Regions from separate parts of the Homo sapiens genome. Here all the other regions are reported to be linked to region 1. The links are microRNA targets in miRTarBase. Many come from high-throughput screens and were not tested one by one. Region 1 holds a microRNA gene; each other region holds the end of a gene's coding sequence.

Region 1 (5,076 bases):
CCACTCTTGCCATCACCAGTCGGTTTGCCCAGATTGTACAGAAAGGAGGGCAGTAGGCCATCCCCCAGGAGAATGACAGAAGCAAAGGACTTATTATTAAGCAGACTTAAGGGCCAGTGGGGGAAGGCTGTCAACCCATTGTCAGATCAGCATCAGGCTGTTATCAAGTCTGTTGGTCCTAAAAAGTAAAAGATGAAATGTTCAAAAAAAAAAAAAAAAGAATTATTGGATTAGTCTAACTTGAGCAAATATAGAATCAGAATTTTTGAAGCTAGAAAGGGTCCTCAGATCATCAAGTTCGGCCCTAACTTTAGGTGAGGGAATTGACTCTAGTGGGCAGAGTGGCCTACCCTAAGGAACACAGCTCCTCCACACAAGCCTATTAAAAGTGGAAACTGCAATAACTGACTGCATACTAGCCACGTTAGGTAAAGCACCAGTGAACCACTAGGACAATAAATTTGTATTATTAAAGTGGAGGTTTGGTGGTGTTAAGGATTACAACAAATAAGCTTTAATCCCCTCTTTTACTGAGCTACTTTATTAAAGGGCGGGAGACCCTTTTCTTTGCTGCCACATCAAACTTAACTATGATTAGGCACCAACAACGTAGTCAGCACTAGACAACACAGGAAATACCTGTAGTTATTTATGTTTGTATAATTGCCTCAAGCATTAGTCACTTTTAAAAAATTACACACACATACTTAATACTGGACGACAGAATTTACTACCCTAAGTCTCTTTTCATTAAGATTTCACTTCATCACTAACAATTAAAATCCATCCCCCCAGCCGCCACCACCAGAGAACTTACTTAACCCACATATCCTTGAGGTAGACCAATGTTATCACTGTATTTCCCCTAATGAGGAAATTGAAGCCTTAGGCAACTAGCTCAAGATTAAAATGCAATTCAGAGAGAGTTCCTCTTACTGATTAAAATGGACTGATGTTATGAGGAAAAATCAAAAGGGTTTCAAAATTAGAAAATTCCATGGCACCAGGAAGTAAGAATGACACATACTGATACCATCTTTTAGTTTGGCAGCACCTTTTTGATGAGAACTAAATGTTCATGTTGGCAGACAGTAAAACTACCACAAGCCTCGTTTCTTCATTTGCCAAATACATGATGTTAAAGATTAACATTAAAATATGAAACATAGAACTGGAAAGCAAGCCAGTCCCTGCTTCGAGTTCTTTTAATTTTATGAAGTTTAAAATAAACAACTTCCTTTGTTAACTTTGTCCTAGAAGCTGTCGTTAGCTGTTTTCGAGCAGTGGTTCTGCAAGTATGGTGTCTTGACCAGCAGCATCAGCTCCTAGGGAAAGGTTAGAAATGCAATTCCTTACCTGTAATGCCAGCACTTTGGGAGGCCAAGGTGGGTGGATCTCTTGAGGTCAGGAGTTCGAGACCAGCCTGACCAACATGGTGAAACCCCGTCTCTACTAAAAGTACAGAATTAGCCAAGCGTGGTGGCGCACGCCTGTAATCCCAGCTACTCAGGAGGCTGAGGCAGGAGAATCACTTCAACCCGGAAGGTGGAGGTTGTGGTGAATGAGAGATCGGGCCATTGCACTCCAGTCTGGGCAACAAGAGCGAAACTCCGTCTCAAAAAGAAAAAAATAAAGAAATGCAATTCCTTAGGCCCCATCCAGACCTATTGAATGAATCTCTGGAGATGGGGTTGGCTGGCTGTGTCTTAGTAAGTGCTAAAGTTTTAAGAACCACTAGAGGATCCAAATAACTTTTGGTGTTCAGTCTCAAACCACTAATTAGCTGCGCATGAGAAATTTCTGCTTTAGGTTAGTCACCCTATGGAGCCCCCGAACCCTAAATATTAACAGTAGGCCCACATCCAGGTTTCCATCTGCTAGACTCCAAAGCAAGGCAGCAGCCATCCCTCTCAGTAGCCCTGCCACCAAATCCTCTTCTCCGAGAACCCCAAAACAGAGTTTGATTGACAAGTTCATTCTTCTCTCCTGTCAGACCTCAAAATGTGCCCAGTTCCTTAAAGGTATGTGTCCCATTGGTTTACAACTCTTCATTCCCTTCCTAAGAATGAGCACGTGTACTAAAACAAAATTAGTACATGTCATCCAAATATTGTCAGGGTAATAAAATTCCTAAAATTAGGCATCTTGGTGCTTTATGTAGATGCAAACTTGAAAAGCAGCTATGTCCAAGTTTTCCTTTAGGATCCTCCCAAGAGATATTTTACAAACTCCTCTAGCATTGCTAATTATTTTTTTTAAAAAAAAAAGAGTCATTTTTTCAGATCTATAAATTTCATTTATTTTGAGGTTCATTCACATTCAGTAACAATCTGATCATTCACCAAAGTTCCAAAACACATACTTTATAAATTAGCTATCATAGTTTTTAGAAATCCAAATATATTTCAAATTATTTTTTAATAGCAGCAACTAGAGAAAGGATTTTTTACCATCTAGCTTACTGTAGCGCTGATCAGGAATGTCGCCAACAAAGGTCCTGCGGTTTACAGATGGATACCGTGCAATTTTTCTCCTATGATACTCATCAAAATTGCATCGTGATCCACCCGACAACAGCAAAACAGATCATTTTACAATGACTAAATATCAGAACTTACGGCTTTTAAAAGTTAAAATAAGAAGACGATAAAAATCCTCCTTTCTTCCACAGGCCGGGACAAGTGCAATACTTTATATAGAACACAAGTAATGCAACAAATCCCCACCCAGGGATGAATGGGCATGAGTGCTGGAGATACGCATGAAGGTGTGTTCACACAGACGTAGGAAGCACACATTATCACAATCAGTTTTGCATGGATTTGCACAGCCACATATACATATATACGCTGAAATGCAAACCTGCAAAACTAATTGTAAGTAGCAATGTCTTTGAATATTCTCTCCATCAACAAGAGATTTGTTATCCAAGAGTACTGGAAGTGCCCATACTACAGTAGAGTCATGCCAAAACTACCTGCACTATGAGCACTTTGGTACTACTAGGACCCAATCTTATCCTCTGTACACAACTGTACACTGCACAGTCCCCACCATCTGTTCCCAACAAACAATAAAAAGGCAAAAAACAAACCACTGAAATGTGTCCTATTCAAATTACTACTCAAGGCATACTTTTAAAATGCTGTATATTAGGCAGCCTGTGCCAGAAGGGGCATTTAGGGCAGTAGATTCTAAGCTGCTTCACTAACTGCACTAGATGCACCTTAACACAAGAGACACATTATAAGAAGCAGCTCAAAAGCATCAACTACTTAATTATGCACAAACTACAGTTCTCAGTAGCCATTGACTAAATCACCATGGTAATGTAAGAAGTGCTTACATTGCAGTAGATCTCAAAAAGCTACCTGCACTGTAAGCACTTTTACATGGCCAAGGCCTATTCCTGTAGCAAAATTTTAAGTCTTCCAGGAGCTCTTCTTTTCCGTCCTCACAGATCCATGCAGACTCACCTGGTTAAAACAACAAAACAAACACACACATATTAGAAACTAAACAAGTAAACTACTAGTTAATATTCCTGAAACAGGCTTTCCTTTGGCTTACAGAGTCTAAGCTAGGTTTTGTGGTTTCAACCAAATCCTGAGAAATATTAATAATCTCAATTATTTACACAGAATTGAACACGAATAACACTGGCAACTGCAAAAAGTCCAATTCTTATGTATAAGCAGATTTTGGACTCCCCCTCTCCATCTAAGAAAATTTGATATCTGCATCTCAGTAATTTGCAGGCACATTCTATCCACCCTGATTTTATAAGAGGAGGACCTAGAGAAAGGAGCATGTAAAACCCAGGATGAGTATTCGAGTCTTCAGATCATTCAGAGCTTTTGGGCTCCATACGGAAAGTGACTGTTAGATTAAATGAATATTCCCAGCCCCCACCCCATTAATAGAAAATGAGAGAAATTTTAGAGCTGGTTTAAGAAACACAGCCTTACAGTCTTCACATAATGCACAGATGGCTGAGAGATGTCACATTTTGATCTATTTCAAAGGGCTCTACTTCTGTTTAAACATTTATGGACCCATTTTCTCCATTAAACCAAAGTAGGCAGATTAGCTCTTCTTCCCTTCATGTCATTATCTTCCATAAGAAAACCTTCTCCCATTTCCAAGTGCTTATTTTACCTAAGAACATACAGCAAGGAAGTGAGCCTCTATGTGAAAAAGGCTCACAGGGTCCCCTATCTCTTCCATGATGGGGTAACTTTTGTTTAAAAGAAAAACAAAAACGTTTGGGACAGAATCTGTAATACGTTAAACGAGTGAGGGAATTTTAAATGTTGAACTTTCGTCACGATATCTTATGCCACTAAATGAGTCTTTAGAAGTCTTTACAAACTAAACTGATTTATAAAACTTATACATCAATCTGGAATCAATTTTCTATTAGGGAAGAATGGATTTAGTATAGAAATGAGAAAAATAACATTTTTCCCCTTAAATTGGGTTTCTACACCTGTGAAGATTTCTTTTCCATTAAAAAAAAAATACTCCAAACTTGACTCAAAATGCATAGTATTTGCCAACCCAACCTGGCCAAACTGAGCCCCACAGCCATCAGACAGGGCGCCCTTCTAGTTACTACCTTTTGCTAATTAGCGGTTCATCTGGCATCCCTCGCGCACGCTGGGCAGTCACTCTCCAATCCCCTTAAATTGCAAATAATAATAATAATAATAAGGAAAAGAAAGAAAGAAGTCCTTCCCTGTACGCCTTTGTGGCTCCCTTTTGCCTCTTCCCGCGTCTCTCACACCCTTACCTAATGCTCCCGTTGAAGTCCGCGAGCAGCCCGCGCGTCCAGGGTGTGCTCCAGCTGCTCACACCACGCGCTCCAGTCCTCGTGCAGCCTCAGCCGCCGCCGAAATTAAAGAGAAAGAAACAAAGCATCATGGGAAACGGAGTTCTCCATTCAAAGCACCAAAAACGCGCCAAGCCCACGCCTCCCTCCCCCTCCATTCCCGGGTTGGTGGGATAGAAGCCAAGAGGGAGGGGAGTCCCTTTTTTCCCTCCACGTGCACCCCCTCATTTCACACCCTCACCACC
Region 2 (5,076 bases), not on the chromosome of region 1:
ATATCTTGAAATTATGAACATTTTTGCCTTATATAATGCCATTGGAATCATATTTTGTAAACCAACTAATAATTTGAACTGTTTCTTTTTCTTTCCAGATGCTGTCTATGTACTGTGCTACTCTTTGATTCTACTTTCCATTGACCTCACTAGCCCTCATGTGAAGAATAAAATGTCAAAAAGGGAATTTATTCGAAATACCCGTCGCGCTGCTCAAAATATTAGTGAAGATTTTGTAGGGCATCTTTATGACAATATCTACCTTATTGGCCATGTGGCTGCATAAAAAGCACAATTGCTAGGACTTCAGTTTTTACTTCAGACTAAAGCTACCCAAGGACTTAGCAGATATGGGGGTTACATCAGTGCTGGTCATTGTAGCCTGAGTATACAATCAAGCTTCAGTGTGCAACCTTTTTTTCTTTTGCCATTTTCTATTTTAGTAATTTCCTTGGGGAACTAAATAATTTTGCAGAATTTTTCCTAATTTTGTTTATCACGTTTTGCACAAAGCAGAGCCACTGTCTAACACAGCTGTTAACGAATGATAAACTGACATTATACTCTAAAAGATGGTGTATTTGTGCATTAGATTTGCCTGAAAAACTTTATCCATTTCCATTCTTTATACAAATACCATGTAATGTGTACATATTTAACTAAAGAGATTTATAGTCATAATTATTTTATTGTAAAGATTTTAACTAAAGTTTTTCCTTTTCTCTCAAACTGAGTTCTGAAATTTATTTGATTCTGATCTGAAACTATTGTCTTCGTAAAAGTTAGATCTGACTTCAGACAGAAACCAATACCAGCTTCCTTTTCCTTTAAACTTTGAAGAGTGTTGATTTGTTACTATATTACTATGCAAAACTGGCAGTTATTTTTATAATATAAATTTATAATTTGATTTTTTATTTTAAAAACTGGGTTAATCAAGTCTCGGTAAGTCCTTTAAACCATTTAGGATTTTTAAAACATCAAAATTTATGATTTACATTCATAGGAATAAAATAAAATATTATTAGAACTCTGGTAAATGTTTGCTTGCTTATATGTGGTGTGATTATGCAAACTTTACTATTTTTGTAATCTTGATGATCCCCGTTCAGAGTCCATTGAGAAAGACATATTGTGAAGAACAGTAAACACTCTTTACTCATTGGTTCAGTGAATGTCTATCCAGGGCTTTACATGTGTTAACATTGTGCGAGGTACTAGACATGGGCCCTGCTCTCACAGATAATACATAACTGGGTACTGAGAAGAAAAAATCTGCTGAATGGAGAGCAACTATATGAAGTATATCTTAATTAACAATTATTTAATAGTTAAAATATGCAGCATTAGAATGATAGAGAACAGTGTAGTTATATGGTAAGTTAAAAGTGACCTCCAAGTAAAAAGCATAACCTTAGGAATGAAATAGTATGTGATGGGTTGAGCTACTAGTTTAGAGGAGGGAGTTGAGGGAGGTAAAAACTCCTTACTAGAGGTATTGAATCCTGGCTTCCTTCCAGATCTGACCCTTAGTCAAAAGTGGTTGTCAATATTACAACTGGAATGTTGTACTACAGATTTTTCAAGGACAAGACATACGATAATCAAATTTTGAATGTCTAAGGGACTTTTAGACTGATAGTAAATAATTTCTAAGATTCTGAAGCAAATATCCAAATCATTTTTGCATGTGCACAATTTTGAATTCCATGACAATTCTAATTTTTAACTTCAAAACTGCTTTATTACATTTCAAAAGACAAAGGGTGGTGATAACTATTATTTACTATCATGCCTAGTTTTCAGTGATTAACACTTTGCCCTCTCCCTCTGTCTACCTCCTTCTGTCTTTCCTTCTTTGTTTTTCTTCATACCTGTCTCTTACCATCCAGTTCTCTCTGCTTCTGTTTTAGCTTATATCTTTTCCTTTTTTTGTATCCTCAATTTCCTAACTTTTTTTCTTTTTCCTATTTTATTTTTCTACCCTGACTTGATTATAAATGTGGATTGGCAATATTTCCTTTTCCAACATTTTCTTAGGAATATTTCAAACACATAGAAAAGTGGGGCCAGGCACAGTGGCTCATGCCTGTAATCCCAGCACTTTGGGAGGCCAAGGTGGGAGGTTTGCTTGAACCCAGGAGTTTCAGACCAGCCTGGGCAACATGGCAAGACCACGTTTCTACTTAAAACTAAAAAATTAGCCAGGCGTGGTGGTACATACCTGTCCGTAGTCCTAGCTACTCAGGAGGCTGAGGCAGGAGGATGGCCTGAGCCCAGGAGTTCGAGATTGCAGTGAGCTGTGATTGCCACTGCACTCCAGCCTAGGCAACAGTGAGACCCTGTGTCAATAAAATTTAAAAATAAAATAAATTTTAAAATAGAAAAGTGGAATTATTTTGCAGAGAATGCCTACTCACCACCTAGATTCTACAATTAAAATTTTACTGTATTCACTAAATCATGTTTATCTATTCCTCTATCCATCAATTATTTTGATACAGCTAAAAATAAGTTTGAGACGTAACTTCCTTCCTAAAGACTTAATTAAACTTGCAAATCATTAGCTAGAGATCATTTTTTTAGCTTTTTTTTTTTTTTTTTTTTTTGAGACAGAGTCTCCCTCTGCTGCCCAGGCTGGAGTCCAGTGGTGCGATCTTGGCTCACTGCAACTTCCGCCTCCCAGGTTCAAGCGATTCTCCTGCCTCAGCCTCCCAAGCAGCTGGGACTGCAGGCACGTGCCACCACGCCCAGCTAATTTTTTGTATTATTAATAGAGATGGGGTTTCACCGTGTTAACCAGGCCAGGCACAGTGGCTCAAGCCTGTAATTCCAGCACTTTGGGAGGCCAAGGTGGGAGAACTGCTTGAGCCCAGGAGTTTCAGACCAGCCTGGGCAACATAGTAAGACCACATTTCTTGCTTAACCAGGATGGTCTCAATCTCCTGACCTTATGGGCCACCCATCTCGGCCTCCCAAAGTGTTGGAATTACAGGCATGAGCCACCGTGCCAGGCCAGCTTTTTTGTTTGAGGTAAAATTTATGTGTACTAATCAATGAGTCTCCGCAAATGCATGTATACCTGGGCAAAGCAAACCCAGTTCAAAATATACAACTTTACAGCCTATTTACAGATAATATTGTACTATATAACATGAAACATCGAAAACTTACAACCATGTAAGCCTCTTTACCCTATCACCCCATCCATTATCTTATTAAATGTATTACGTATATGTTATAAACTCCACAATATAATGTTATAATTTTCTTTGAACAGACATATATATTTTAAATTTAAAAAAATGCTCTTTTATATTTACCCAAATTATCATTTCTGATGCTCTATTTCTTCCTGAAAAATCCAAGTTTCCTTGTAGCATCTTTCCTTTCAAACTGAAAAACTTTAACATCTATAGTTCAGATCTGCTGGAAATTAAGTATGACAAATTTTAAAATCTGAAAATGTCTTTATTTTGTTTTCCTTCCTGAGGAATATTTTTGCTGAATACATAATTCTAGATTAACTTCCCCCCACCCCACGTTTGGCATTTTAAGGATATTGTTCCAGTTTCCTGACCTCCATTGTTTCCAATGAGAAGAGTAGTGTTCAAATAGTTTTTCCCTTGTGAACAAATGTAATTTTCCTCTGAGTGCTTTATTTCATCAAATATTGTTTTTCAATCTCATTTTCTCTTCTCCTCCTGGGACTGCATTTATGAATATGCTAGACCTTTCGATATTGTCTCACAGGTTTTTGAAGCTCTTGGTTTTTCATCCCTTTTTTTCTCTTTTTTCTTCAATTGGATTTTTTTCACTTGATTTGTATAGTCCAACTCACTGACTCTTCTGTACTCATTTTCTTTTAAGCCCATTCAGTGAACTTTTATTCTAATTATTGTATGTTTTAGTTCTAGAAATTCTATTTAGTTTTTATAATTTATATTTCTGTGCTGAGATTATCTTTTCATTCATGACTGGTGTATTTTTCCTTACACCTTTTAGCATAGTTATAATAGCTAAGATACTTGATGGCTCATTTCAGTATTCTATTTCAATATTAAATACTTGTCTATTTTAATATTTAGTATTTTAATATTCAATATTTCAGTATTGGATATTTCAATATTCAATTTTCAAAATTCTTATTTTAATGTATGAATATATTCAATATTCATTTCAATATTCTGGATCATTTCATTGTCAGTCTTCTCTAATTTTCTTTTCTTTCGAGAATGGGTTACATTTTCCTGTTTCTTCATATGTAGAGTAATTTAGATTGTGTCTGGAACATGGTAAGTAAAATGTTGCAGAAACCCTGGATTTTTATTTGTTTCTCTAAAGGCTTCTTTTTTTTTTTTTTTTTTTTTTTTTTTAAAGCAGCTAGTTAACTTGGCCAAACTGCCAGCTGCAAGCTCTGGTTCCCCTAGAGTTCGTGGCAGCTCAGATTTTAGTTCAGCTTTTTAACCTGGCTATTGTACTTGAAATCTCTTCTGTACATGCATGCGTGGGAGACCAGCCAGCTTTAGCAGAGTCATACACAGAATTTAGGGCTCTCTCTGTGGTTCTTTTCGTATCAGGATTTCCCTCTGCGTTTTCCAGCAGTTGCCATTACCCCAAACGTGTCCTAGTGTTCTTCAAGTCAATACAACTGTAGTCTCCACATGATGCAGAGTGAGGAGTTCCTCAGGCTATGAACTATAAAAATAGGAAACTCACCCAGTGCTATTTCTTCTAAGTATTCACTCCTCTGTAGGATCAACCTGCTTTTGGTTGTTTTCTATTACTTTCAGTTAGTTAATTTTTAAATATTTTGTCCAGAGTTTGTAATTTCATATGTTGGCAGGTTGGTCTGAAAGAACTTCTTGACCATCACTTGAAGTGGAACCCTCTCCAATTGGGTAGTATTCTTTTTCTACTTCCTATGATTACTGAGTAGGGATTTGTTCCTGATTATTTTTAAAACTAGGTGAGTAGAAATTTTTAACATGTTCTATCTATGAAAAACCTTAATTATAAACATTTAGTAAATGTTTACCAAATTAGCAATTCAGTGTTTCCTAGTTGGTGTCCTAC
Region 3 (5,076 bases), not on the chromosome of region 1:
ATATATAAAAATATATATATTTTAAATATAAATATATAAAAATATATATATTTTAAATATAAATATATAAAAATATATATATTTTAAATATAAATATATAAAAATATATTTATATATTTTAAATATAAATATATTAATATTTGAATATATTTAAATGAGGAATTGACCCCTATCTATGAAACATGAAGTGTTTGTCTCTAAATCCCCTTTCAGGAGAATAAAGTCAGATTTACAAATAAAATTTGTTCCCGACAAAAGTGACATGCTTCAATTTCATTCATTTCTTAATGAATATCATCACTTTAGAGCTGCCCTATTGTGCTTTATGAAGTTTTTCCCCTCAGTTAAGTTTCTCTCTGCCCTTGTATTGCTTGTGATTATTCGCTCAGAAAGTGATGTCTAGGCTAGCGTGCTGGTTTGGGAATGCGTGTTTTCCAGGTACTTGCTGCGAACCCACCACACCTTTGTTTTCTGCCCCCAACAGGAGGCTGCATGCACATGAAGTGTCCGCAGCCCCAGTGCAGGCTCGAGTGGTGCTGGAACTGTGGCTGCGAGTGGAACCGCGTCTGCATGGGGGACCACTGGTTCGACGTGTAGCCAGGGCGGCCGGGCGCCCCATCGCCACATCCTGGGGGAGCATACCCAGTGTCTACCTTCATTTTCTAATTCTCTTTTCAAACACACACACACACGCGCGCGCGCGCACACACACTCTTCAAGTTTTTTTCAAAGTCCAACTACAGCCAAATTGCAGAAGAAACTCCTGGATCCCTTTCACTATGTCCATGAAAAACAGCAGAGTAAAATTACAGAAGAAGCTCCTGAATCCCTTTCAGTTTGTCCACACAAGACAGCAGAGCCATCTGCGACACCACCAACAGGCGTTCTCAGCCTCCGGATGACACAAATACCAGAGCACAGATTCAAGTGCAATCCATGTATCTGTATGGGTCATTCTCACCTGAATTCGAGACAGGCAGAATCAGTAGCTGGAGAGAGAGTTCTCACATTTAATATCCTGCCTTTTACCTTCAGTAAACACCATGAAGATGCCATTGACAAGGTGTTTCTCTGTAAAATGAACTGCAGTGGGTTCTCCAAACTAGATTCATGGCTTTAACAGTAATGTTCTTATTTAAATTTTCAGAAAGCATCTATTCCCAAAGAACCCCAGGCAATAGTCAAAAACATTTGTTTATCCTTAAGAATTCCATCTATATAAATCGCATTAATGAAATACCAACTATGCGTAAATCAACTTGTCACAAAGTGAGAAATTATGAAAGTTAATTTGAATGTTGAATGTTTGAATTACAGGGAAGAAATCAAGTTAATGTACTTTCATTCCCTTTCATGATTTGCAACTTTAGAAAGAAATTGTTTTTCTGAAAGTATCACCAAAAAATCTATAGTTTGATTCTGAGTATTCATTTTGCAACTTGGAGATTTTGCTAATACATTTGGCTCCACTGTAAATTTAATAGATAAAGTGCCTATAAAGGAAACACGTTTAGAAATGATTTCAAAATGATATTCAATCTTAACAAAAGTGAACATTATTAAATCAGAATCTTTAAAGAGGAGCCTTTCCAGAACTACCAAAATGAAGACACGCCCGACTCTCTCCATCAGAAGGGTTTATACCCCTTTGGCACACCCTCTCTGTCCAATCTGCAAGTCCCAGGGAGCTCTGCATACCAGGGGTTCCCCAGGAGAGACCTTCTCTTAGGACAGTAAACTCACTAGAATATTCCTTATGTTGACATGGATTGGATTTCAGTTCAATCAAACTTTCAGCTTTTTTTTCAGCCATTCACAACACAATCAAAAGATTAACAACACTGCATGCGGCAAACCGCATGCTCTTACCCACACTACGCAGAAGAGAAAGTACAACCACTATCTTTTGTTCTACCTGTATTGTCTGACTTCTCAGGAAGATCGTGAACATAACTGAGGGCATGAGTCTCACTAGCACATGGAGGCCCTTTTGGATTTAGAGACTGTAAATTATTAAATCGGCAACAGGGCTTCTCTTTTTAGATGTAGCACTGAAATCCTTGCTGGAGGGAAGAGAGGGGATGAACTCAAGTTTTCCACATCCTGGGACACCTGTCCCTCTTTTCCTAACTGCCTAAGATAACCCATTTCTTCCAACCATCTGAGGACAGTCCCGTCGTCTCAGAGGCCCTGCACCGGGGAGAGACTGGGCTCTGCAGCAGCCACATCAGCATTCACAGCTTCATGTGGCTTCACTGTCTGAAAATCTACCGACTCCAACATGGCCCCACGGTGACAACAGACCTGTGACAGGAAGCCCAAAGCTCACATAGAAATGGTGGACAGATCAAAGTCTCTATAGTAAGGGAAAAAAAGAGAGGTGGCAGGCATGAGCCCCCTGCACCCAGTGGCTCGTGTCCATACTGAGTCCAGACCCTGATCAAGGCCTGACTTAGTGTCACTGGCAGTCCCACTAAATTACACTTCCTTACACTGGCCCGATGCGACAAATCAGGTGGCTCCCTTCTGTCACGTGGAGCACACAGTGTTTTCCATCATCCATAGCTTTCTTCCTGATGGTGTTTGCATTATTGCGCCTTCCCAATCTGCATGCTGCGTTGGGCTTGCGGTGCCTGAACAAGGTTTGCTCCCATGAGCTCAGGCACCCTAGGATCCCCTGTTAGACTATTAGGCTGTCCAGCATGGTCTCCTTTCCCTTCTTGGTGGTGGTCTTTTCCCTTTCCAGAATAGAACAGTGATTCTTAAAATAAGTTAGAGCAGGCCGGGCGCGGTGGCTCATGCCTGTAATCCCAGCACTTTGGGAGGCCGAGGTGGGTGGATCACGAGGTCAGGAGTTCAAGACCAGCCTGGCCAAGATGATGAAACCCCGTCTCTATTAAAAATACAAAAATTAGCTGGGCGTGGTGGCAGGCACCTGTAATCCCAGCTTCCTGGGAGGCTGAGGCAGGAGAATCACTTGAACCCGGGGGGCAGAGGTTGCAGTGAGCCGAGATCACGCCACTGAACTCCAGCCTGGGCAACAGAGTGAGACTCTGTCTCAAAAAAAAAAAAAAAACAAAAACAAAAAAGCAAGATCATCCACTACACATGAACATGAATCACAGTATTATTTGCACAGGAAGGGTGTAACAAAATATGAATGTATCAAAAAATAGAAATAAAGTCTTTGCAGAAAAAGTCTGTTTTTCTCTGAAGTGTGTTGAGATTATCTGACAACTCTAAGATTGTACTTAAATTGTCAATAAAGCATCAAAAGAGCTTCTGAGTCTGTCTTTGAAGATACATTTTCAATCAATGTGAAGGGTGACGGAGGGAATCACAGGCTGTATTACTCCATGGGCCTCACTTGTGGCCTGGAGGAATTACCTGGTGATGAAATAGCCATTCAGTGACCTGGAGGAATTACCTGGTGATGAAATAGCCATTCTCATATCAACTCCAAGCTCCAGATTACCGCTGGCTGTTTCTCTTTGTTAAATAAGAGTAGTTTTTTAAGGCTATCAAAATTTGAAAGGGTTCCAAAAAGCAAACCCTCATTCATAAAAATCTAAAAGTTACTTTCCTGCCTTACTAGCAAACTTTTCTAATAAAAGTGTTTAAAAGAGAAGTTTGCATTGGAAAAGACTATCTATAAGGATTTTTTCTCATGTCATTCTAGAAAATTTCAGTGACTTTGCATTGCTGTCAATGTGGGTGTGTTGACGCTGCATTTTCAAAGAACTGCTTTAGTGGCCATGCATTGTTTATTTCACAATGAGCCCATGGTGGAGGGATCTGGAATGGAACATTCCGAGATAGGGCCTGCACAACATTAGGCAAAGAAGTACACACTGAGGTCCTCTGGGTGCCAGTAGCCACAGGAAACACTCCGAGGATATGCAAAGGTCATGGGAATGGTGGCCCAGGTGATGATAGAGCAAAAGGGGGCAGAGAAAGTGGGTGAGCTCTGGGTGCCAGGGTGGGAACCCCACCTCCAAAACGCACCTGTGTAAGAGCTTCGGGGACAATAATAGCATGCACCACGTTAGGTTGTTGTCACAACTAATTAATTTGCCTAAAGCACCTGGAACAGTGTGTAGGATAAACGAAGCACTGTGTAATTGTTCGCTATTGTTAAAAAATGAACCAGTCATTGGAAACTACAGAATAAAATAACAGAAAACACAAAACTAATGCAAAGTGATGACAAGTGCCAGGAATATCTATTTGAGCACACAATTGTAGATTTAGGGATTCGTGTTAGAGGCGGGTGACTCATGTTGCATATACGTATATTGTATTATCTTCTAGACAGCCCCAGAAGTGTTCCTATAAAGGTAAGTTGCTATGCTAGCTGTGTGTGTGTGTGTATGTGTTTGTGTGTATGTATGTGTGTGTGTGTGCGCGCGCACGCTATATGTGCAGATGATGTCCAGGGTGTGAATTCGGGTTAATATTGTGAGTGGAAATGAATAAGCACAAATGCGAAATGCTTATGCAGAAGACAGCATTAGACATGGGGTAAAGCCGGCAATCCCTGTTTGGGTAGTGGACGTGCCTCATCTCCATCTGCCCTTACTAGAACATTTCTGATAGTGTGGAGAATATCGATGTTCAGTTTTTTTAAGAAAATCCTATTTCAAAACAACATTGAGCCTCTTTTCAATCCACTGTGAATAAACTGTCTCACACAAAATAAGAAATGTTGCTGTGGTTTAAATAACATGCCGAAAAAAAAAAAAAAAAGCAGGGAGTATTGTCCGGGAAGACCTGCTTGACCATACAGATGGGTGGCACTGGCTTGAGGGACCCACCATGCTCGCTGATCTCATCCTCAGCTGCATAGGACCAATTTTGTCACTATATCAAGAGGTGACTGGGCCCCAAAAGACTAACGCTAACCTAACTCTTAAGAGAACGGGGCATAAAAGCTAAAACGTCAGTTTACAGTTTATATTTACTATGAGAAGCTTCCCTCCTGATGCTTCATACGTGCTTTTCCATCTGGCTGGAGTCATTCTTTAAAACCCCTGCCTTCTCCTTTTGACAGGCCAACCTGTGGGCTTCAGTTTGATG
Region 4 (5,076 bases), not on the chromosome of region 1:
TTGACGTCCTCTGAGACCTGCTCTCCTTCGTGCAGGGAGTGCCATGCCCTCGTGGGTGACAGCGTGCTGACAGAGTGGACTGTGAATATTCTTCAAGTACTTGTGGTCCTGGGTCATCAGGGGTTGCATTCTACCCAGTTACAGAGGGTTTCCCATCGAGGAAGCCAGCAGCATCAGAGAAGTGGCAGGGGGCCTTTCCTCCGTGTGTAGGGCCGGCCTTGCTAACCCGAAACATTTCCTAGAAATGTGCTGCTTGCTAACAGCCGCTGCTTCACTTTCAGCTTTCAGAGTCCACTGCTGAATCCCACTTAATGGAGAAGGAACTGGATGAACTGAGGATCAGCCGGAAGAGAAAATGAAGACCCCAGAGACATTTATTGGGGAGTAGGATGTGGCTGAGTGCTTTTTTTTTGGCCAGACTAGCGGATTCAGTCCTGGAAGAGAGTATCATATAATGAGACCCACAGGCACTGGCACCCTTGGGTTGGCAATAGAAGGTGACATGGAATGGAGAAAACCAAGATTCCAGATGGGGATAGTAACTAGAAGGTGCTTCAGATGCACTGCCTGCGGGTGCCAGTCTGAAAACCAGACCGCACAGAGGCCTGGGGCTGCTGATGAGCTTTTTGGTGCTCTCCACACACAAGCTCGCAAACACACATGTCCCAGAATAGCTCTGTTGGGTTGTGTTGGGAGAAGCGGCTGGAGTTCATTCTCTCACCCCCTTATGTTGGTGTTTGGCGTGTGACAGCAGTTCTACAGAGCTCTGTGTTGGGGTCATGGATGAGCGGCTCTCTTGGCTCTTAAAGGCAGGCCTCTCTCTTCTTGCCTTTAAAGAATCCTCCTTCCTCACACCTGGCCTCCTCTGGCTTCAGCTTCTCAGCAGCAAGCACCAGCCTTCCACAACAACACTATATTTTTATGCTACTTTCCTGTTTGCACTACTACTTTTTTATTAAACGATGTTAAATAATCTCTCTGTGACCAAAGTGACTAAAAAGAGAACCATGAGTTTCTCAAGAAGTAAATGGAGCTGGCCAGGCATGGTGGCTCACACCTGTAATCCCAGCACTTTGGGAGGCTGAGGTGGGCAGATCACCTGAGGTCAGGAGTTCGAGACCAGCCTGGCCAATAGAGTGAAACCTCGTCTCTACTAAAAATACAAAAATTAGCCAGGCGTGGTGGTGGGCACCTGTAGTCCCAGCTACTTGAGAGGCTGAGACAGGAGAATCGCTTGAACCCAGGAGGCAGAAGTTGCAGTGAGCCGAGATCATACCATTGTACTCCAGCCTGGGCGACAAGAGCGAGACTCCGTCTCCAAAAAAAAAGAATTAAATGGAGCCTGGCCAGGTGTGGTGGCACACACCTGTAATCCTAGCACTAGCACTTTGGGAGGCTGAGGCGGGCTGATTGCTTTAGCTCAGGAGTTCAAGACCAGCCTGGCAATAGCGAAACAAAATACAAAAAAAAAAAAAATTAGCTGGGCGTGGTGGTGCACACCTGTAGTCCCAGTCTCTCAGGAGGCTGAGATGGGAGGATCACTTTGAGCCCAGGGAGGTTGAGGCTGCAGTGAGCTGTGATTGCTCCACTGCACCCCAGTCTGGGTGACAGAGTAAGACCCTGTCTCAAAAAAAAAAAAAAAAAAAAAGTAACTGGAGCCTGGAGTCTAAGCCTCTGTTGTTCCATCAAAAGACAGAATTGGCCGGACGTGGTGGTTCACGCCTGTAATCCCAGCACGTTGGGAGGCTGAGGTGGGTGGATCGTCTGAGGTCAGGAGTTTGAGACCAGCCTGGCCAACATGGCAAAACCCCGTCTCTACTAAAAATACAAAAGAAAATTAGCTGGGTGTGGTAACACATGCCTGTAGTCCCAGCTACTTGGGAGGCTGAGGCAGGAGAATCACTTGAACCCGGGAGGCGGCCACTGCACTCCAGCCTGGGCGACAGAGCAAGACTCTGTCTCAAAAAAAAAAAAAAAAAAAAAAAGAATGTTTAGTGTGTGGGGAACTGTCACTCTTGTAGGAGAGCATTCCAGCTTTCCTGGGCATTGGCAGAGGCTGATGCCAAACAGAAACAGTCTCTCTGCTCAAAATTCGCCTGCCCTCCTGCTTCATGGTGTTGGGACTGGCCAGGACCTGGCAGGAACCTAATGGTTGGTGTGAGAATTTGTGCCGTAGGCAGTATGAGCTGGACTTTTCTGGCAAGAGGAGGGAATCCAGCTCCTGAAGTCAAGCGGGAAGGAACTGAGGGGGTGGAGGTGGGGGCATGGTGCCCAGGGCTTTAGACTAGGGACAGGCTACCATGGTTAGCCACTTCTGAATGCCCGGTACATGCCTGGCACCAGGCTCCCTTTGCTCTCACTGTCTCATTTCCCCTTCAGCTCAGCCCTGTGTAGCAGGGGCTATCGGCACATCCATCTGCAGAGAAGGAAACTCTGGGAGGTTCAGACACTGATCTAGGATCACACAGTAGAAGTGCTGGAGCTTGATTCACACAGCCCGCTATGAAAGAGAGGAGCTGGGGGCGGCCTCAAAGGGAGCTGCTGTCTGCAGTCCATCCTTACGGCCAGCAAAGCACTCTATGGGGGGGATGGATCGAAGGGCAGATTTGTAGCTCCAACCCATAACCTGACTTTCTGATACAGGAGAGAATGTTTAATACAGAAGAAATTGGAAAAGGATCCACATATATGCAAGGTGTAAATCTTCAGGTGCAGATAATAGGAGCAGTGGAGTTTGCTTATGCCTCGGCCGGTATCACTGGGGACCCTTTATTAATATTCCTGATGCTGGACACCTCCCGATGCTGGACACCTCATTTGCATGACACTCTTTCAAGTTTGTTATCCCCATCACCATGTTTTAGATGAGAAAACCAACCCAGCACAGTGACACAGTGGAAGGGTGGGGCCAGGACTGAAGCCTTGGGCATCATGTGGGCATATTTCGTTGTCACAATGGTGTGGATCCCCCCATGACCAGCACCATTAGGACCTTTGGGGGTTGCAGCCAGGAACCCTAAACATCCTGTGGTAGGAGGGGCAGTTCTGCAGTGAAGAAGGAATTTCTTTTGAGTGAGCGGGGAAGCAAAAGCCATTGTTATGAGCAGATAAATGCTATGATCCAACTGCACTTTTAAAAGGCGCTGGGCGTGGTGGCCCATATCTGTAATCCCAGCACTGTGGGAAGCTGAGGTGGGTAGATTGCTTGAGCTTAACAGTTTGAGACCATCCTGGGCAAAATGGTGAAACTCCATCTCTACCAAAAATACAAAAAGATTAACTGGGTGTGGTGGTGTGCACCTGTGGTCCCAGCTACTCAGGAGGCAGTGGTGGGAGGATTGCTTGAGTCCAAGAAGCAGAGGTTGCAGTGAGGTGAGATCGTGCCATTGCACTCCAGCCTGCTGACAGAGTCAGACCCCGTATCAATCAATCAATCAATAAAAATAAAAGGATCCTTCTGGTGGCTTTGTGGTGAGAACAGACTGAAGGAGGCCAGGCCCATCCCAGGGAGGCCACAGTAGATGAGGTGAGGTGGTCTGATTCTGGATAACACTTGAAGGTAGAGCCTCCCCGTGATGGCTGGGAATCAGGGACAGTCCCATGAATGAAAGTCTTTAGGAGAAAAGGAAAAAAAATCACCCATATATCGCCACACTAACCCTGTTTGCTTCAGCGAGGTGTTTTGTTTTGTTTTTCTTGAGACATTATATATTTTCAAATCTAAATAGAGCCAGATATATCCTTCAGGTTCTGGCTAAAATTCTTCATCCTCAAAGACTTTATTGGCCAGGCACAGTGGCTCACGCCTGTAATCCCAGCATTTCAGGAGGTCAAGGAAGGAGGATTGGGCTGAGCCCAGGAGTTTGAGACCAGCCAGGGCAACATACTGAGACACCATCTCTACAAAAAAAAAATTTAAGTTAGCCAGGCGTGGTGACACACACTTGTAGTCCCAGCTACTTTGGAGGCCGAGGTGAGAGGATCCCTTAACCTGGGAGATCGAGGCTGCAGTAAGCCAAGATTGCACCACTGTATCCTCCAGCCTGTGTGACAGGGCAAGACACCGTCTCTTTAAAAAAAATTTAAAAAGGGCCTGGCGCGGTGCCTCATGCCTCTAATCCCAGCACTTTGGGAGGCCGAGGCGGGCGGATCACCTGAGGTCAGGAGTTTGAGACCAGCCTGGCCGACATGGCAAAAACCTGTCTCTACTAAAAATACAAAAATTAGCCTGGCATAATGGCAGGCACCTAATCTCAGCTATTTGGGAGGCTGAGGCAGGAGAATCATGTGAACCTGGGAGGTGGAGGTTGCAGTGAGCCGAGACTGCACCAGTGCCCTCCAGCCTGGGCAAAGGAGCAAGCCTCCCATCTCAAAAAAAAAAAAAAAAGAAAGAAAAGAAAAGAAGATTCTGTGGACGAGAGGGAGGGCATGAGTGCAGGATTAGAGGCAGTAATGGCAGGAAGACCGAGTTTGAGTCCTAGCAAGGGGAACTGCGCAGACAACAGGACAGGCATGGGCTAATGTGCACTTTCTAATGAGAGGGGCTTATAGTTTTTATAGGATTCTCGAAGGGAGCCATGCCCCCACCCCCCAATTAAGAGCTACTATATCACATGTTTCTAATTCTGACAGGACAGAAACAAGCAAGGTGGAAATCTTGGGCTCGAGAGATGGGGAGTAGAGGAGCTAAGAGCCCAGCGTTCTTGAACCTGCCTCTCCCATCCGATGGCAGTCACCTGGGCTCCTAGCATGGGGCATTGCCACTCACTTGCTGACACCCTTGTCCACTGATGCGACCTCCATCCTGGCACCAGTCTCACCATGTCATCTCTGCTGCTGAGCCTTCCTCTTGAAGACTTCAGCAATTCCTCAGCCCTCTGGTTTCCCTCTCTCCCCAATCTTTAAATGTCTGATTCCACAGGACTCTGTCTTTTTTTTTTGTTTCTGAGACAGAGTCTGGCTCTGTTGCCAGGCTGGAGTGCAGTGGCGTGATCTCGGCTCACTGCAACCTCCAACTCCCGGGTTTAAGCAATTCTCCTGCCTCAGCCTCCTGAGGAGCTGGGACTACAGGCGCCT
Region 5 (5,076 bases), not on the chromosome of region 1:
AAAAGAAGCTGTTTTGGGGGAATATTCTGTTTTTTTCTATTAATACTTTCCTAGAAAGCAAAATATACTGCAAAATGACTAAAGCCAATTCTTGACATAACTGCCATAGTTAAAATTTGAGATTCAGAGTAAGAAATATTTTCCCAAATAACTGAGATAAAGCCTGATAACACCAATACAATTGTTTTGTTCAAAAATTTATGTCTCAAGAAATGATGTCTCACATGTAAAATCTAATGCAACACAGAGACAAGGGAAGGCACTGTGACCATGACAAGGGTGTACTAGCAACACTAATGAAAATGAGGTGTCTTCTCTTCTTGGAAAGCCACTAGAAGAACTTGCATGTACATTTGAAGAAAAATGATGCAAGCCACTTGCCCATTAACAGAGCCCTTCTGGTTTGATTGCTGTGACATATTTGATATTTTTACAATTAACCTTTGATTTGGACTACAATAGAAAACTATGCATGCTTTTTCTTCCATTGTAGGTTCCAATGCCACATGGCCTTTGCTATTTCAGATTAAGTCTTTTAATTTTGGAAACATTTTCACTGATGGCACCTATTCTACGGCAATGTATGTAACTTGCAACTCATCATTTATATTTAAATGGTAGAACCATTTATTTCTTCAGAAAGGACTTTAGAAATATTCTAAACTTTGAGATTTTTTTTCCACACAGAAGGATGCTAGCTGTCTAGGATCTTAATACCAAACTATTAACTCTATGAACACCCACATTTCAATATATAGTTACTGATAATCTGGAAAGACTTGCTGTTGTTTTAAGCCATGTGAGACAATTACAGGAAAAGTTCATTTGCTTTGATAACTGTGTTCTCTAGGTATTTTGGGTGTCTGTGTTTGTTCATGTCTATCTAAGATGAGGGCCTTGGAATAAATAGGATTCTCTCATGATAATCTCAAATATGGTCATCCATCATATCCTATAGTCTCATAGATGTAGAATTAGCAAAACTACATTTAATAGTAAGCACACACCATAGACGAGATTATCTTTCCTGTCCTCTGAAGTCAAGACTAACATGAGTTTGACCTTTTGTTAACCTGTTTGATCATTTGTTAACCTGTTATAGAAATACATCAGCTTGCCTTCATGAAACTTTTTATCTATATCACATAATCTACCTTAAGCACATTGGTAGAATGTTTGTTAAAAAATAGCCATGCATCTCCTCAGATTGGTCATATCTAACAGATATGACTAAAACGGTCACTCTACACACTCTCCAGCAAAACTGGTGTAAGTCTGCTTCTTCACTTAGCTTGCACCACTTCTAATATAACACATAACTGACTTGTTGATTGCATTTCCCAACATCCTCCCACCATCTTTAGAACGTGGCCTCCACAAAGGCAGAGATTTTTGCTTTTGGCCATTGTGTTACTTCAAGTGCTTAGAGCAACCTCTGGCACCTAGTAGCACTCAAATGTTCACTGACAAAACAATGTGGCAGATGAGGTCAGAGACACAATGGGATGGGATATGGAATAAATCATCTCTGGGCTTTGTGGGCCGTCTTCAAGTTCTGAGTGAAACAGGGGAGCCACTCCAGGATTCTAGGCAGAGCAGTGCTGTAACCTGACAAAAGTTTTAAAAGCATCGCTCTGGCTGCTGTATTGAGGATGGGCTGTGGTGGGCAGGGGTGAAAGTGAAAAGACATTTATGAAGCAAGTACAGTAACTGGATGAGGAATCATAAAGGCACAGATTAGGATGAAAGTGGTATAAATGGTGATATGTGGTTGAATTCTGGATTGTTTTGAGGGGAAAGCAAATAGTATTTCTTGACGGACTGGATGTGGGCTGAGAGAAAGAAAATCAAGGGTGACAACAAGGTTGTTCTAGCTTAAGCAACTTGAAGAATTGTATTGTCATCAATTGACTTGTGAAAGTTTGTGGGAGAAATGTTTGAGGGTAGGGTGAGCTGTTTAGCAGTTCAGTGTTGGACATGTTATGTTTCAGATGTTTTGTCAGGCCATCACCAAGGGATGCCAAAGGCAGGTGGATCTGTGACTAAAGTTCAGGGGTGTGGGGAATTACATATGAATTATATAATTATATAATTCATTATATATAAATGGGATGCAAAGTGAGTGCAGAGAGGAATAAGGCCCAAGTACCCTGCAGTTAAAAGGAATGAATGAATTTTATCACAGAACTAGAAAGAATCTCAGGTTCTTCTCAGTTAATAAATGTCCTGAAGGAAAAAAAAAATCATTATCTGGTGATGTTACTTTATGAAGGAAAGGTAAGAGAACAAGCAAATTATGAACATAATTTAAAGATAGAATTTATTCTCTGATGGTTTACTCATGCAAACTGCACATAAAAGAAAATAGTACAGTTTGTGTAACATTGCAAATATAAGGACTGAAAATGCTAGGTACAGAAGTAGTATGACATCCTGAAAGTCAAAATGGAATTTGTGTTTATACAACTAATAATGATTTTTATTTGCTCAGTACAGACTGATTTACAATGAAAGTTTTGCTAACCTTGGTAAGCTTGTTAACCGTTTACATGACTTCTTACATCTATGTAGTTTTATTTTACAGTTGCAAGAATTCTGTTACCAAAGAACCTTAACTTGCATAAGTAATAAGATGAAAGAAAAATGTACTGAAGGACTTAAGAGTGAAAAATTGAGGCTTTTCCTAACCCATTCAAACTACAATAAAAAATAGCCTTCTTGCAGAATTCATATTTTGTGCCTTTGAGATAACTCCTTAGAATAATGATATCAAAATCATGATTTGAAAAACTGATTACTTTAAAATAATGAAATTAGTTAAAAATTAAAAATTTAAAAAAAATTATCAAATAAAAATGCTCTCATTTTAAAAAGCAAAACAATAAAATTCCCATTATCTTCATACTTAAAGTCCTGAAATGTCATTTATATAATTTGAATGTTTCCCAGTTTGGAACTTAGGCAGGAGGGATATTTCCTTGAATTATCAAGGATATTCCATACAGACTTTTAAAATGTCAGTCTCATTAGGAGATGGCACTGAGACTTTAGCAAATAGTGTAGTATGGATGCAGGACAAACTACACAACTTATTATAAATGCATTACAGATATTTACATAGTGGAATCCTGCTTGAATGCCAGAAGTTGCTACTGGGTAGGACTCATAACTATTTTACAAAGTTTTCTTACGCACATCTACTACTTTTAAAATTTTATGTTTAACAATTTATTCTATTTTAAAATATGTACTGTATTTTGAACATAACTGCAGAATAAAAATAGATAATGGCACATTAGAAAACTAAGTATCCCACAGATGATTGGATAATGAGAAAAATGTACCTACAATCATCTCATCAGAAACAAGCTACATCATGGAATGTTAGTTATCCAAGCCTGCACAATAATGACATTTTAAACTGCAATCATCTATTGGCCAGCATCACACTGAAGGCATCGTTAAACATTCAAGCAAAGATTGCTGGCATAAACTATTAAAAGACACACACACACGCGCACACACACACAGATACACACACACTCTCTCTCATTCATGCACACTTCCCACATTATAATTACATTGTTCTAAAGATAGATACTGATTTTTTTTTCCACGAGAAACATTATCAAAATTTGCTACTAAAAGATGACAGTGCTTTCACAAGAATAGTACAAGTTAGCTCGCAAGTACAAGACAATGGGGGTAAACAGTCTTAAATTTTCTAAGTAGTAATTTTAGGCTTTTCTGGCAACCATACCATACTTAATTATGCATAAACTTTGCAGTTTGTAACCTGAAATCTGTAAAAACAACAACAAAAAAACCAAAAACAAGAGCTAATTTCAAAAATTATTAGATATTTGATAACCCTGTATCATACATTATATAATTTCATATTTTTAGCCTCAAAACATAGGTGTAAAATATTGAATTTAAGACTTGAAAAATAAAATCATTTTTGAAATGCTGAAAATTCTAAAATTTGTTTACTTAAAATCTTAAATAAAAAAGGAAAATGATTATAAATGACCTTGATTTAGCTTAACAATGTGCATAAAAGCACTGTATGTCTTTACCATGTTTTCACTCACTTAAAAAAAAGTGTTCTTTAATGTTTTTCCTTTTGCATAATGTGCAAAATAAAAGGCAAAAAGATTAAAAGCAAATTTCTATCTTTCTCTTGCCTAGTGCTTTTATGACTCCGTTAACATTACAAAGTCAACAGGGACTATGCAAAACTTTGGTATAAATGATAATACTACTACCGTCACAGTTGAGGGTTAAGGGGTGGTCAAAAGAAATGGAAGTGGGAAGAAAGATTCAGTAACACCCCCATTTATTAAAACACCAGCAAATTAAAAGTGAAATAAATCACAATGAATTATAATACAATTTACACATTGAGCACAGAAAAATTAATAAATCTAATAATATTTATAAAAAAAGCAAAATCAGTCTTTTTCCAGAGACTAAAAACCGTTTTTCAGTCTGATCAACTGCTGCTACACCAACTTTAGAGCCAAATTTAATTTCAAGTAAAAAAAAAAAATTTACAACCACAGATTTCGCATAAATGGAAACTGGTCTTTCCTTGATTTCCCTTTGAAGTCACTAATGAGTATCTAAAACTGTTGTACTGCAGGTTTTTAATCAACTTCCTGAGGGCTGTGACTGGGAGGAAGGAGCCATAACGATCTGTGAAAGAGCAGGCTCTGTACTCTGGTCCGCCATCTGGGTGAGGACTGAAGTGGCTACAGCTTCTGCCTTGGAGGTTGAACTGACTCCATTGGATGTGCTGACCGAACTATGCTGTATAGCTTCTGTATGTGGACTACTCGGCACTGAAATGTCTTCTGAACTATCATCTTTATCAGCAGCTGGGTGGAAAAAAGAAAAATTATTCATTTTCCTAAAATCGGTAAGAATGCACCAGTATGCTGAGGCAATACACAGAGTAAAAAGTTAGAAAGTATCTTACAAAACTGATTAGACAAGTTGGTATTACAGCAATTGATATAGGTCATGAAGTAGGCAATTTTACCTGCAATAGGTCAAAAGAAGGCACAACCATGC
Region 6 (5,076 bases), not on the chromosome of region 1:
AGCGAAACTCCGTCTCAAAAAAACAAAAGGAGGCCGGGTGCGGTGGCTTACGCCTGTAATCCCAGCGCTTTGGGAGGCCGAGGTGGGTGGATCATCTGAGGTCAGAAGTTTGAGATCAGCCTGGCCAACATGGTGAAACCCCATCTCTACTAAAAATACAAAAATTAGCTAGGCATGGTGGCGGGCGCCTGTAATCCCAGCTAGTCGGGAGGCTGATGCAGGAGAACCACTTGAACCCGGGAGGCAGAGGTTGCAGTGAGCCAAGATGGCGCCATTATACTCCAGCCTGGGCGACAGAGCGAGATTCTGTCTAAAACAAAACAAAACAAACAAAAAAAAGAAATTAACAAGACCCCACTCTAAAGTTTTTTCAGTAGGAAAAAAAACGTTTTGGAGAACACCGTTAAGAAACGTATCATCTTGGGTGGGCGCGGTGGCTCATGCCTGTAATCCCAACACTTTGTGAGGTCAAGGCGGGCAGATTACGAGGTCAGGAGATCGAGACCATCCTGACTAACACGGTGAAACACCCCTCTCTACTAAAAATACAAAAAATTAGCTGGGTGCAGTGGCACGTGCCTGTAGTCCCAGCTACTCGGGAGGCTGAAGTAGGAGGATCACTTGAACCTGGGAGGCAGAAGTTGCAGTGAGCCAAGATTGCACCACTGCACTCCAGCCTGGGGCAACAGAGTGAGACTCCGTCTCAAAAAAAGAAAAAAAAGAAAAGAAAAACATACCATCTTAATATGTCAATTGTAAACTAACTTAGTAAAGTCTAGTTTAGGTGACCAGAAGTAGACATAGGTCAATTCTACTAATTCAATAAAATCCTCAAACCCTCTTAAGAAGGTAGGACGTAGAACAAGAAGGCAGGCGAGACAGAGAGGCACAAAGTCATAAATCTCGACTCCACCAAAATTTGGAATAATTCCCCTATTCAGCACTGTTTCTATAACATACTCAGTATGTGATATTAAGAGCTCCTCAAAAAACAGGGTTTCATGATTAGGTGGGATTGAAAACAGTAGGGTAAAGGAAGTTATTAGGCAGGTATCTCTTCACAGGCCTTCTCAAAGTTTTTAATATGCAAACACTGTGATTCTCTAAGAATGTGCTATACATAGATTTTCCAAAATATATTTGGTTATAAATTCCCAGAGCATTTCCAGGGACCAGTATTCTAGGAATTCATTTTGGGAAGCACCGTTCCACAGATTTAAAATATCATCCCTTAAACTAATTTTTGTGAAAATAAAGGGCCACCACAAAGATGCTTTAAAAAATATGTATTTAAGCTTTCTAGGCCTTAAAAAAGTTGATTTCCTTTCTCGTTTTTGTTTTTGTTTTTGTTTTTTTTTGAGACGGAGTTTCAATCTTGTTTCCCAGGCTGGAGTGCAATCTTGGCTCACTGCAACCTCCGCCTCCCAGGTTCAAGCGATTCTCCTGCCTCAGCCTCCCTAGTAGCTGGGATTACAGGCATGCGCCACCATGACCGGCTAATTTTGCATTTTTAGTAGAGACAGGGTTTCACCATGTTGGTCAGGCTGGTTTCGAACTCCTGACCTCAGGTGATCCACCCACCTCAACCTCCCAAAGTGCTGGGATTACAGGCATTAAGCCACCACGCCCGGCCTCTCTCTGTATTAAAGAAAGGTTTTCTTTTTTTTGAGGCGGAGTCTCGCTCTGTTGCCCAGGCTGGAGTGCAGTGGCACGATCTCGGCTTACTGCAAGCTCCGCCCCCCAGGTTCATGCCATTCTCCTGCCTCAACCTCTCGAGTAGCTGGGACTACAGGCGCCCACTACCACGCTTGGCTAATTTTTTTTTTGTATATTTAGTAGAGATACGGTTTCCCCATGTTGGCCAGGATGGTCTCGATCTCTTGACCTCGTGATCCGCCTGCCTCGGCCTCCCAAAGTGCTAGGATTACAGGCGTTGAGCCACTGCGCCCAGCCAAGAAAGGTTTTCTGTTGGTAGAAAGTCCAATAAGTGGGGCCAAAAAACTAGATTATAGATTTTTAGAAGTTTGCGGCAAAGCAGTGTTTCTCAACCCAGATGCATATTAATATCACTAGAGACCTTTAAAAATTAAAGATCAACATCCAGGTACTACCCCCAACCAATTAAATATAACTCCTTGGGAGTGGGGTGTGAGTACTGAATATACTTTTAACAATGTCCAGATGATTGCAATGTGCAATAGAACACACTGAAGTATAAAAGACCCGGAAAGGTCTAACTAAATTAAAAATTTTAAAAAGCCGCTGGTAATGGTTTCAAGTGTTAAATAAATTTTAAAAAAAACACTTAATTTTCAAATTTGGACAATTCTTCAAGTGATAAGAAAAATATTTAAATTCAGACTCAAGCAAAATAGTGTGTGCAAAGATAAAAGAATGCCTAGGCTGGGTGTGTTGGCTCCCGCCTGTAATCCCAGCACATTGGGAGGCCAAGGTGGGTGGATCACATGAGGTCAGGAGTTTGAGACCAGCCTGACCAGTACGGTGAAACCCCGTCTCTGCTAAAAATACAAAAATTAGCCAGGAGTGCTGGCAGATGTCTATAATCCCAGCTACTCGGAAGGCTGAAGCTGGAGAATTGCTTGAACCCGGGAGATAGAGGTTGCAGTGAGCTGGAGATTGCGCCACTGCACTCTAGCCTGGGTGACAGAGCAAGACTCCGTGTCCAAAAAAAAAAAAAAAAAAAAGAATGCCTAATACATTCCTTATCTGATTAATGGACTTTTAATTTTCATAGGTAGAATCTTCCTTTTTTTGTGTATCAATTAATCCCCTGTGATAATACGTGCTGGATATGTATGTTCCAGTCAGTCATCACATACAGAAATGAACTAAAATTACTAAATCTTTTAGAAACAAAAATCAAGGATTCACAAACTATGGCATTTTATTTCAGAGCCTTTGCTTACATTTGTACAATATATTACATAATTCTTCATTGTTTGCAGATCCTAATATATACTTTATAGCTTTTATTCTATAAGCTTTTTTCTTCAACATTTTGCTGTCAACAAATCTTTACAGTCCTGTACAAATTTGAATAACTTGAAACCATTTTCAACAAAATTAGTTACTGTAAGCACACACTACAAGACTGAAAATGCTTTTCTTAGAAAAGTTGAATGTAAAGGATTCTGACACGTTAGCATCTACAACAAAACGCATTGAAATTCCCACGTCGTATTGCCAGGAAACAAAGAAAACATGCCAGCCCCATCCAAAAAAAGTACACAGAACTACAATTAAAACAGTAAAACAGTCTGTACAATAAAGTACTGTGTATTAACAGTGCCAGATATTAAATAGCTTGAATGAACACATCCACAATATACAAATGTCTTACAAAGGTGAAGAATTAAATACAAGTGCCAAACAGAACAGAGATTGGAATCATACAACATAAAGTCAATACAAGTGAAAACAATTTTGCATTCATTTTGGATTTTATACAAGGCATTTAATTTTATAGGCCTACCACCCCCATTAGCTATTTATATTTAAAATAACCACCATCCTTTTGAGACAGTTCCTATCAACAATCTTGAACCATACTAATACATTACTTGTTCCTGAAGTCCTTTTGTTGTAGCTCATAATAAAATAAGCAATACAAATGAATTATCTGTATTTAAGGGAAAAGAAACATTTACAAGAAAACACAAAAATATAACTGTTATAATTCATTATGAATAAATATACACTTTGAACTGGCTAAGTACAATCTTTATACATTGTTTAAGATTTAATACAGTTTATTAGCCATTTTCTTTTTTCACACAATGTATATCAAAATTAAAAAAAAATACTGATTTATAGAAAAATGGCAAAGTACAGTAGTTCCATTCCAATTTGAAGGGCCATGAAAAGCCACTGCAAGACCTTTTAGCCTAATTCAAACCTGTAAACATGTTCAGTCTTTTTTAAAGAGAATCTTTAATATTTGGTTACCAGGATTGATGTCTAATATCCTGTTAACTGCAGGTTTTGAATTTATTACATGTGCTTGACTTATACAATTAAAGCCACCCTAAGGTGACTTGCTTTAAAAAACAATTACCTTGTACAAATGAAAATAGGTTCATATTTTTTCATAAATAAATGGAAAAATATCAAATGTTCCAGCTTTAACAAAATACAAGGGAATACATATACAGTAAGTTATCTTAACATGTTCTGACCCACCCCTTAACTATGCTTACTGTATTGTCTCTACAGGCAGTGAAAAGCCTCCATTTGCCACAGTGGAAGGCCTTCCAGTTACCAGACACACAATTCCCAGACAAGTTGGAAACAATTATTGCTTGAGGAAAAGCAGTTCATTGTACTTTTTCTTCATAAAAAAGTGCACTTAAGTGCCAAGTCAGCTTGTCAAGAAACAATTTTTAAATATAAAATAGTGCTTGTCTGATATTTTTTTGTGCCACTGTGCAGTATAAAAAAAAAGTGGCCCTCAACAGCCATTAAGTGCAAAGTGCTTTAGCAAGTCCTGCTGTCACCTGCACTCAACTGACATTCCATTTTGTGATGCGCTGGACATTGACGGTTCAGCTAAAGTTAACATAACAGCAGCTGTTATGGAACTGGATGAAGGTGAAGAGGAGGATGAGGATGTAGCAGCACCTAAGGAAAAGGGAGACCAAACCAAGAGCTTAATAAAAATTTATGTCTAACAATAGACAGAAAATACTAGTCCTCTGAACTAAAATTCCGCTATATTGTCCAAAATCATTTAGCTTACAACAACAGTGGTCAATTCTCACAGTTCTACGATGTGAAGAAAGGAAAAGCTAGTGTAGCTCAAGAAGCTAGACAGTGCCCAACTACAGAAGTAATGAAAAGGACAGACCAGGGAAGGCTCCTGCGTGGGTCAAAGAGGGAAAGAACTGTGCCTAGTCTACAAGACACAGAAATAAAATACAGAATACACTTTTTGTAACAGTGAAACAAGTATCAAAACAGGAAAAATCTGCAATCCATCCAAAAATCATTTGTCCCCTCCTAATCCCTCCATCTTTCTGTACTTAGGAGTTTTCTTGTACATGTAAATGGTGACAAGAG

What was found. The annotated mature microRNA hsa-miR-19b-3p reads UGUGCAAAUCCAUGCAAAACUGA and lies in region 1 at 2,807-2,829, opposite strand. An mRNA with a match to its seed (bases 2 to 7 or 8) in the 3' UTR can be bound and repressed. Matches are read on the target gene's strand: a 7mer-m8 pairs with bases 2 to 8, a 7mer-A1 pairs with bases 2 to 7 and ends in A, and an 8mer does both.
Region 2: the mRNA of FBXO8 is a reported target of hsa-miR-19b-3p. Seed matches in the 3' UTR shown: 8mer at 503-510.
Region 3: the mRNA of PRKN is a reported target of hsa-miR-19b-3p. Seed matches in the 3' UTR shown: 8mer at 3,131-3,138.
Region 4: the mRNA of CBY1 is a reported target of hsa-miR-19b-3p. Seed matches in the 3' UTR shown: 7mer-m8 at 936-942.
Region 5: miRTarBase lists ATF2 as a target of hsa-miR-19b-3p. Seed matches in the 3' UTR shown: 8mer at 4,135-4,142.
Region 6: the mRNA of ARID4B is a reported target of hsa-miR-19b-3p. Seed matches in the 3' UTR shown: 7mer-m8 at 4,483-4,489.

What each region holds. Positions count from the first base shown.
Region 1 is chrX:134,166,877-134,171,952 of GRCh38, forward strand. It overlaps MIR19B2 (microRNA 19b-2), which reads right to left and starts at 2,890; the gene lies at 2,795-2,890. MIR106AHG (miR-106a-363 cluster host gene) reads right to left here. Exons shown (of 2, transcript XR_007068340.1): 1 at 4,793-5,076; 2 at 2,274-3,476. It overlaps MIR363 (microRNA 363), which reads right to left and starts at 2,576; the gene lies at 2,502-2,576. MIR92A2 (microRNA 92a-2) reads right to left here and starts at 2,736; the gene lies at 2,662-2,736. It also overlaps MIR20B, MIR18B, MIR106A and the pseudogene TIMM8BP2.
Region 2 is chr4:174,232,622-174,237,697 of GRCh38, reverse strand. FBXO8 (F-box protein 8) reads left to right here. Exons shown (of 6, transcript NM_012180.3): 6 at 99-1,040. The coding sequence ends at 286. Among named protein-coding and RNA genes, the nearest start is that of LINC02268, 15 kb to the right of the region's middle.
Region 3 is chr6:161,345,620-161,350,695 of GRCh38, reverse strand. It overlaps PRKN (parkin RBR E3 ubiquitin protein ligase), which reads left to right. Exons shown (of 12, transcript NM_004562.3): 12 at 485-3,279. The coding sequence ends at 597. Among named protein-coding and RNA genes, the nearest start is that of AGPAT4, 74 kb to the right of the region's middle.
Region 4 is chr22:38,672,878-38,677,953 of GRCh38, forward strand. It overlaps CBY1 (chibby 1, beta catenin antagonist), which reads left to right. Exons shown (of 5, transcript NM_015373.4): 5 at 282-973. The coding sequence ends at 359. It overlaps TOMM22-DT (TOMM22 divergent transcript), which reads right to left. Exons shown (of 2, transcript XR_007068097.1): 2 at 2,639-3,612. Among named protein-coding and RNA genes, the nearest start is that of TOMM22-DT, 6.4 kb to the right of the region's middle.
Region 5 is chr2:175,069,956-175,075,031 of GRCh38, forward strand. ATF2 (activating transcription factor 2) reads right to left here. Exons shown (of 14, transcript NM_001880.4): 14 at 2,304-4,880. The coding sequence ends at 4,654. Among named protein-coding and RNA genes, the nearest start is that of CHN1, 67 kb to the left of the region's middle. RefSeq lists a silencer at 1,192-1,392.
Region 6 is chr1:235,164,015-235,169,090 of GRCh38, forward strand. ARID4B (AT-rich interaction domain 4B) reads right to left here. Exons shown (of 24, transcript NM_016374.6): 24 at 2,888-4,638. The coding sequence ends at 4,511. Among named protein-coding and RNA genes, the nearest start is that of RBM34, 5.3 kb to the left of the region's middle.